2 separate regions of the Homo sapiens genome follow, and region 2 is linked to region 1. The links come from fine-mapping of genetic effects on gene expression. Tissue or cell type: blood mononuclear cells. Region 1 holds a variant in brackets; the other region holds the start of a gene. All regions are shown on one strand. Distances are from middle to middle.

The links. PIP is the estimated chance that this variant, and not a neighbour inherited with it, causes the effect.
Region 2: DPH6 starts here. The variant in region 1 is fine-mapped to the expression of DPH6 in blood mononuclear cells (TOPMed, PIP above 0.99).

What each region holds. Positions count from the first base shown.
Region 1 is chr15:35,574,622-35,577,540 of GRCh38, reverse strand. The region is part of intron 1 of DPH6-DT (DPH6 divergent transcript); the gene reads right to left. Among named protein-coding and RNA genes, the nearest start is that of DPH6-DT, 30 kb to the right of the region's middle. The variant A/T (reference allele first, on the strand shown) is at 1,058.
Region 2 is chr15:35,544,459-35,547,377 of GRCh38, reverse strand. DPH6 (diphthamine biosynthesis 6) reads left to right here and starts at 1,213. Exons shown (of 9, transcript NM_080650.4): 1 at 1,213-1,259. The coding sequence starts at 1,237. DPH6-DT (DPH6 divergent transcript) reads right to left here and starts at 1,183. Exons shown (of 3, transcript NR_038251.1): 1 at 905-1,183. RefSeq lists silencers at 741-790, 1,091-1,230 and an enhancer at 1,278-2,212.

The DNA of each region.
Region 1 (2,919 bases):
ATCTATGCCTAGATGAAGTAAGTATCTAGACTACCGATGGGGTCTGATATAGATTCAGCAAACCAAATTTCTAAGTATATACCCTTGTTCTGATAGCAGATTAATACCTTGAGGTCGAAGAGTCGGTGCCTAGGTCCTCTTTGTTTCCCTTTACTTTCTGTGTTGATATGTCTGAACAATAGGTCTAAGATAACTCACCATAACACTCAAGGTTCACATATATGAATAAAGATTATTTTTCACATTAGATTTCCCAGAGAGCAAATTATAAGAATACATAAAATATTGTTGATAAATAAGACAAATGGTAACAACCATAGCAGTTTTTAACACTTAACAAATGATTTCTAAATTTGCAATTTCATGACTGAGTTCTTTTTTAAAATTTTTTTATTTTAATTTTTGTGGGTACATAGTAGGTGTATTTATAGGGCACATGAGCTGTTTTGATATAGACACGTAATACATAATAATCATGATTGAGTTCTTAAATCACAAAATGCCTCCAGTCATTATAAAGTTTGTATATTAATTGACAATATAAATGTCTTCAAAAGTTAGTCAAAAGGTTATCAAAACCAAGCCTTTACTGTGGAATTAAAATCTGCCCTATGCATGGACTTTTACATTTTATTGGGTTATTCACCCTCAGTTTTTCTAATATATCTGTTAAAATTTTGTTTCCTCCAAATCTGGCTATGTTATTCTGCTGAGGGCTTGGCAATTCAAGTAGCAGCTCTAAAATTAAAACTGTTGTTGATGTTTTATCCTCTTTGTATCATTTATCCCAAACAGGCCTGGTAGCTATATGCCTGGAGCTAGGTCAGGGCAGAGAAGGCTTCTAAGCCAGCTCACTGCGGCTTAGAATGCTGCAAGCCCATTCCAACCTTCCTTCTCCAGCATTAAGTGGTGGGCTTCCTCTGTGCCATTTCCACACTTGTAAATATTTTAGTCAGCAGGATCCCACAGGAGCAGGGAAAAAAAATCTGACTCTTGCCCTTCTTTTGTTTCACATCTTTTTTTCTCCTTAGAGGGAGAAAAAGGATTTTTAAAAAAA[A/T]TTTTTAAGGCTTTGATCCTGAGAAAAACCAGTTAAACTCTAAGACTTGGTATTTTTCAACAAAAAAATCAGATATTCCTCTTCAGAAAGTTTAGTCTCAATATTGTTATGCTATAAATCAGTGATTTCTAAACTTTCAAATTTTATGAACCTGAATATTAATCAACAATGTAAAAAATTAGGAAATTGACAGAGTTGCCAACTTTTTATATTCCCTCTTTTCATTTTCTCACATGATAATTTTAATACATAATCACTACATTTTATCACTTTAGTATCATGAAAAGACAATTTGACAATGAAGTAGTAGGAAGAATCACTGAATAAAATGCAGTATCTTATTAAATTGAATAAATTTGACTTAATACAATTCCCAATACTTTGTCTTTCTTGTTTTTGCCAGCCCAGTGGAAATATCTTCACTGGTTAGCACCAACTGATACACATTAAAAGCATATTCCGAATGAGCAGAGAGACTTTTTTCAGTTACTGGTGAGTTTCCCATTATTCTTTGCAAAATTGTATTAGAGTTTTCAGGACTAGAAAATATTTGATTAGAATGATGCACCAGTATCTTGCTTCTCAGAAATAGAGATCATTAGAATTTCAGTGACCTTCCAAATCCACTGGGTAGATGCTCTCATTTTGTAGATAAGAAAATCAAGGCCCACTGGAACCCAATTTCTAAATACCAAACAACTTCCCTTAACTACAGGTGTCAGCCTCCATCTGTTTATAGCCATAAGATAGCCTTTCAAGTTTGTAGTCAACATTTGGTGTTTAATAGGTATCAGATACATTCATGTGTTATTTCAGTTAATGCTAATTACAACATTATGCTGTGAGAGTTAGCAGGCCCATTATACAGATCAAGAAAATAAAATTCAATATGTAACTAACTTAAGCTCATACTTCTAGGAAGTGGTAGAGTGCCCATTTAATGGGACTTTCTCCAACTTAATTTTTATGTTTTATAATTCAACTAACAAGCATTTATTGAGTGGCTTCCATAGACCCAGCACCCTGATTAGTGCTACAGGGAAAACAGAAAAAGTGTAAAACATGGTCCTATCCACATGAAATAAAGAAAAATATTGTTAAAGATAGCCAGATAAATATTAACAGGTGGGATATATCCACCTTTTTGCCTCTCCATTTTCTATGGAAACCTCTGTCTTTGCCAGCCCAGTTCCCAAGCGTGTGATACAGAATTGAGAAAACAGGGAGAAAAAGACAGGCTTGGTCAGCGGAGAGAAGTGGGTTGGACACAAAGCACAGAAAGTAGGGAGAACTGAGATTTTCAGAAAAGTTTTTTGGAGAGAGTTGGTGGTGAGAGCTCCAATTCAGCTTTGAGGTGTAAGACCATCAGGGAGAAAGAAAAGACCTTTAGTGAAGTGTGGCTATGGGTTAAAAATTTCATATCTTTAGTGTTCTTCATAAATAGACATAAAGTTTGGAATTCCTTTTTAGTAATTTTTGGTACCTGATATGTTTATTGTACCTCAATCTATTATTATCTCATATCTATATCTATATCTATATATGAGAGCACAGAGTTTGGGGCACAAATACTCCTGAGGGGCATATGGGTTACATAGTAATTATATTCTTACATTTCATTAGCATATTCATCTTTTGGGAAAATATAGATACACATTATCTTGTACAGTCCACTCAAAAACTCATCGAAATATGTGGAAGCTGTGGCTTACTAAAGGGATTTTCCCCAAAATTATACAATTAACAAAGTAACAGGATTGAGATTATAACCTCAGTTTCCAGACTCTATATCCAACGCTTTTATCTACCACATAGGCCACGTAAAACAATTAATAAATAATATAAGAAAGGATATAATTTAG
Region 2 (2,919 bases), 30 kb after region 1:
CAGCTTCCTAATAGGTGGATTCTCAACACTGCAATCCTTTTAAAATTTTAAGTCACACCCTTCAAAAGTCTGCAATTACCTACAAGACCCTATATAATCCTTCCCCTCCATCACCTTAACCTGCTCTCCACTACTCTCTGCTTTGCTCAATCTGCTCCAGCAACACGGATCTGCCTTAATCTTCCACAAACACACAACGCACCTAGAGCCTTCGATTTTTTTTTCTTGTCTGGAGCACACCCCAATCATACACATAGCGAACTCTCCTTATTTAAATTGGCTCAACTCTCATCTTACCAATAAGGCCTACATAGACACGATTTAATTCTGCAATTTGCCTCTCCACCTCTCTCCTGACTCTCCCCCACCGCACCCCGCCCCTTTCCAATAGCACTTTTCACTCTTCAACAGACTATTTACCTTTAAGATATGTATTGTCTGTTCTCTCCATCCCCATTTAAGCTCTATGCCCGGAATGCCGGGTTTTTGTTTTATTTACGGTTGTATCCACAGAGTCTAAAACAGTGCCTGGTACACGAAAGGCACTCAATACATACTTGGCAAATAAACTTAGAAGCTAGATTTTCTTTCTGCAAGGCCATTGCTCTTTGGTGAAGAGCCTGGCCTGGCCTTGTCAAATACACAAGCTTGACCAAGAGCCAAAGCCACAGAGGGCCTAGAGGTGGGGGGGGCTAGCCCCAGATTTAAAAATTACCACAGCCCCTGGGGATCTGAGTTTCACATCTGGACACACAGGTTTGGAGGACAGAGGAGATGTAAGTTAAAAAGCAGAAGTGTACAGTTGTTTCTGTTCTGTGGGGTGAGGAAGGACAAATTTCTTCTGCGCTTGCACGTCCGCAACTGTGTCAATTTGCAGCAATTGGGACGCTAAATCCCCTCTTACCAAAACAAATCCTGCGCCACTGGGCTTGGGCTCTGCAACGCGGACCTTGCCCTTCCCCCGGCAGCTTCAGTGCCCTCACTTAGGTGGTTAGGCCGTGCCTAAACCTCATTCTTTCCTGGGCCGAGATGTCCCTGCCACAGGGTCAAGGTGCCAAGGTGCCGCACCCTCCGCGCTCAGGTGTCCCGCAGGCAGCCGCGGGGCTCGCAGCGCCGATCCGCGGACAGGCGGCGGAGCGAACACCCGGGCGAGGCCCCGCGGTGCGTCACGCGAGCTGCGGCGCGACCTCCTGGCTCCCGCCCGCGCTCGCCGCACGCACGCGCACTGCGCCCAGCATGAGGGTCGCGGCTCTGATCAGGTAATGCGGTCCTGGAGCCGCCTCCTTCCTCCTAGGCCAGGCTCTCGTCCCTTCCAGCCGCCGCTAGCGCCGAAAGAGTGGGTGTCTCCGTCTGAGTCGCGCGTTGGGGGTTCCGCGGCTCCTCCGAGCCACAGGAAGAGGCGGAGCCTTCGCTGTTGCCGGCCCGCATGTGCCTCGGCCCCTGGCTGGCGCGCCTCCTCCCTGTCTGTCGCTCTCTGGTCTTCTAGCCCTTAAACTTGGATTCCCATTGGATTCAAGTGGGAAATTAAAAAAAGTACCGACGCCTGGGCCCCACCGCCAGAGGGATTGGTTTAATTACTTCTGTGCGACCCGGCGTCTGATTTTTTTTTTTCAAGCTCTAATGAGCCGTGAAGTTTGGAGCCACTACCTTATTCCATCAACTCAGTTAATAACCCTCGCCCTTTCCCCCTCGCTTTCTTCGTCCTCTTCTGTAGTTCCTTTGGTCAGCTGGGTCCGCCGCAGCCTGGCTTCCTCCCTAGTTGTAAGTGTTTCCGCCCATCCCAAGAAGTCCACCCCTCCCTCATCTTCACAGATGTGGATTGCTTATGGCATGTGTGTGTTTCTGCCTTTGGGCACTCAAGTACAGAGATCTCTCTTCGTGGTAGAGACCGAATTGTACTAGTCTTATGCTAGATCCAGTTGCTGTTGCTTCGGACTCTCATCATTGCTTTAGAGTGACCTTACCCTATACTCCGTATTCCAAAAGGAGTTTGATGTCTGTAGTAACCAAATCATAAATTTAAGTGTCTAAATAAGTCCTGTGACTGACAAACCAAAAACAAACCTGCTTAAATATTTCCATACTCAATCTATAAACTGAGGCAGAAGGGAACACACTAGCAACATTAAAAAGTTAGACTACTTAAATACTTGTTTCATGAGATTTTGCCCTGTAGAGTGTCTTAGATACAGTGCAACGATGTGCTTGCTTTTGTAATCCAATTGAAGATTTCATAAACGTTTTCGTTAAGTCCCTTAGGTAATTGATACTGGCTGTAAGTTTTGACCTATTAAGGACTTGATATGAGATTTCAGACCTACTGTAGTGTCTGGAATATTCCGGTTCCCTTTCCTTCAATGTCATTTTTAGGAGACTAGACCATAATGTCACAATAATTATTGTTGTTCAGTAAATGTCCTCTGTAACATAAATGATTAAGCTTTAACCATTGTGTCTTATTTTAAGAATTAAAAGTACCCCAGGAAGTGAATAATTCAAATTTACATCGCTTGCCAAAAGTTTAACGATTAAAGTAAAGCACAACAAACAAAGACTTAGAAGTATTGGAGGGGAGGAGAGAAGATTGGTAGAGTCAGTTACACTAAATAACCTGTAATGTGCATATGTTGCTTTATAATAAAAAAAGTTTGCTAAAAAAGCAATGTTGGAAAATTCTTGCTGAAGCGTAAGAGCTGTAAGGACATATGCTGTAAGTATGAATACGTAAGCATTTACCTGTATGCTTATGATACAGATGCCTATGTATTCTATATATATGCATTATATATAATTATGTATTATAAGTGAATAAGTGAAACTGGGATTCTTACATATCTTTCTAAGAAGATTATTTTCCTTTTTTAAATTTTTTTTTTATTATACTTTAAGTTCTGGGTTACATGTGCAGAACGTGCAGTT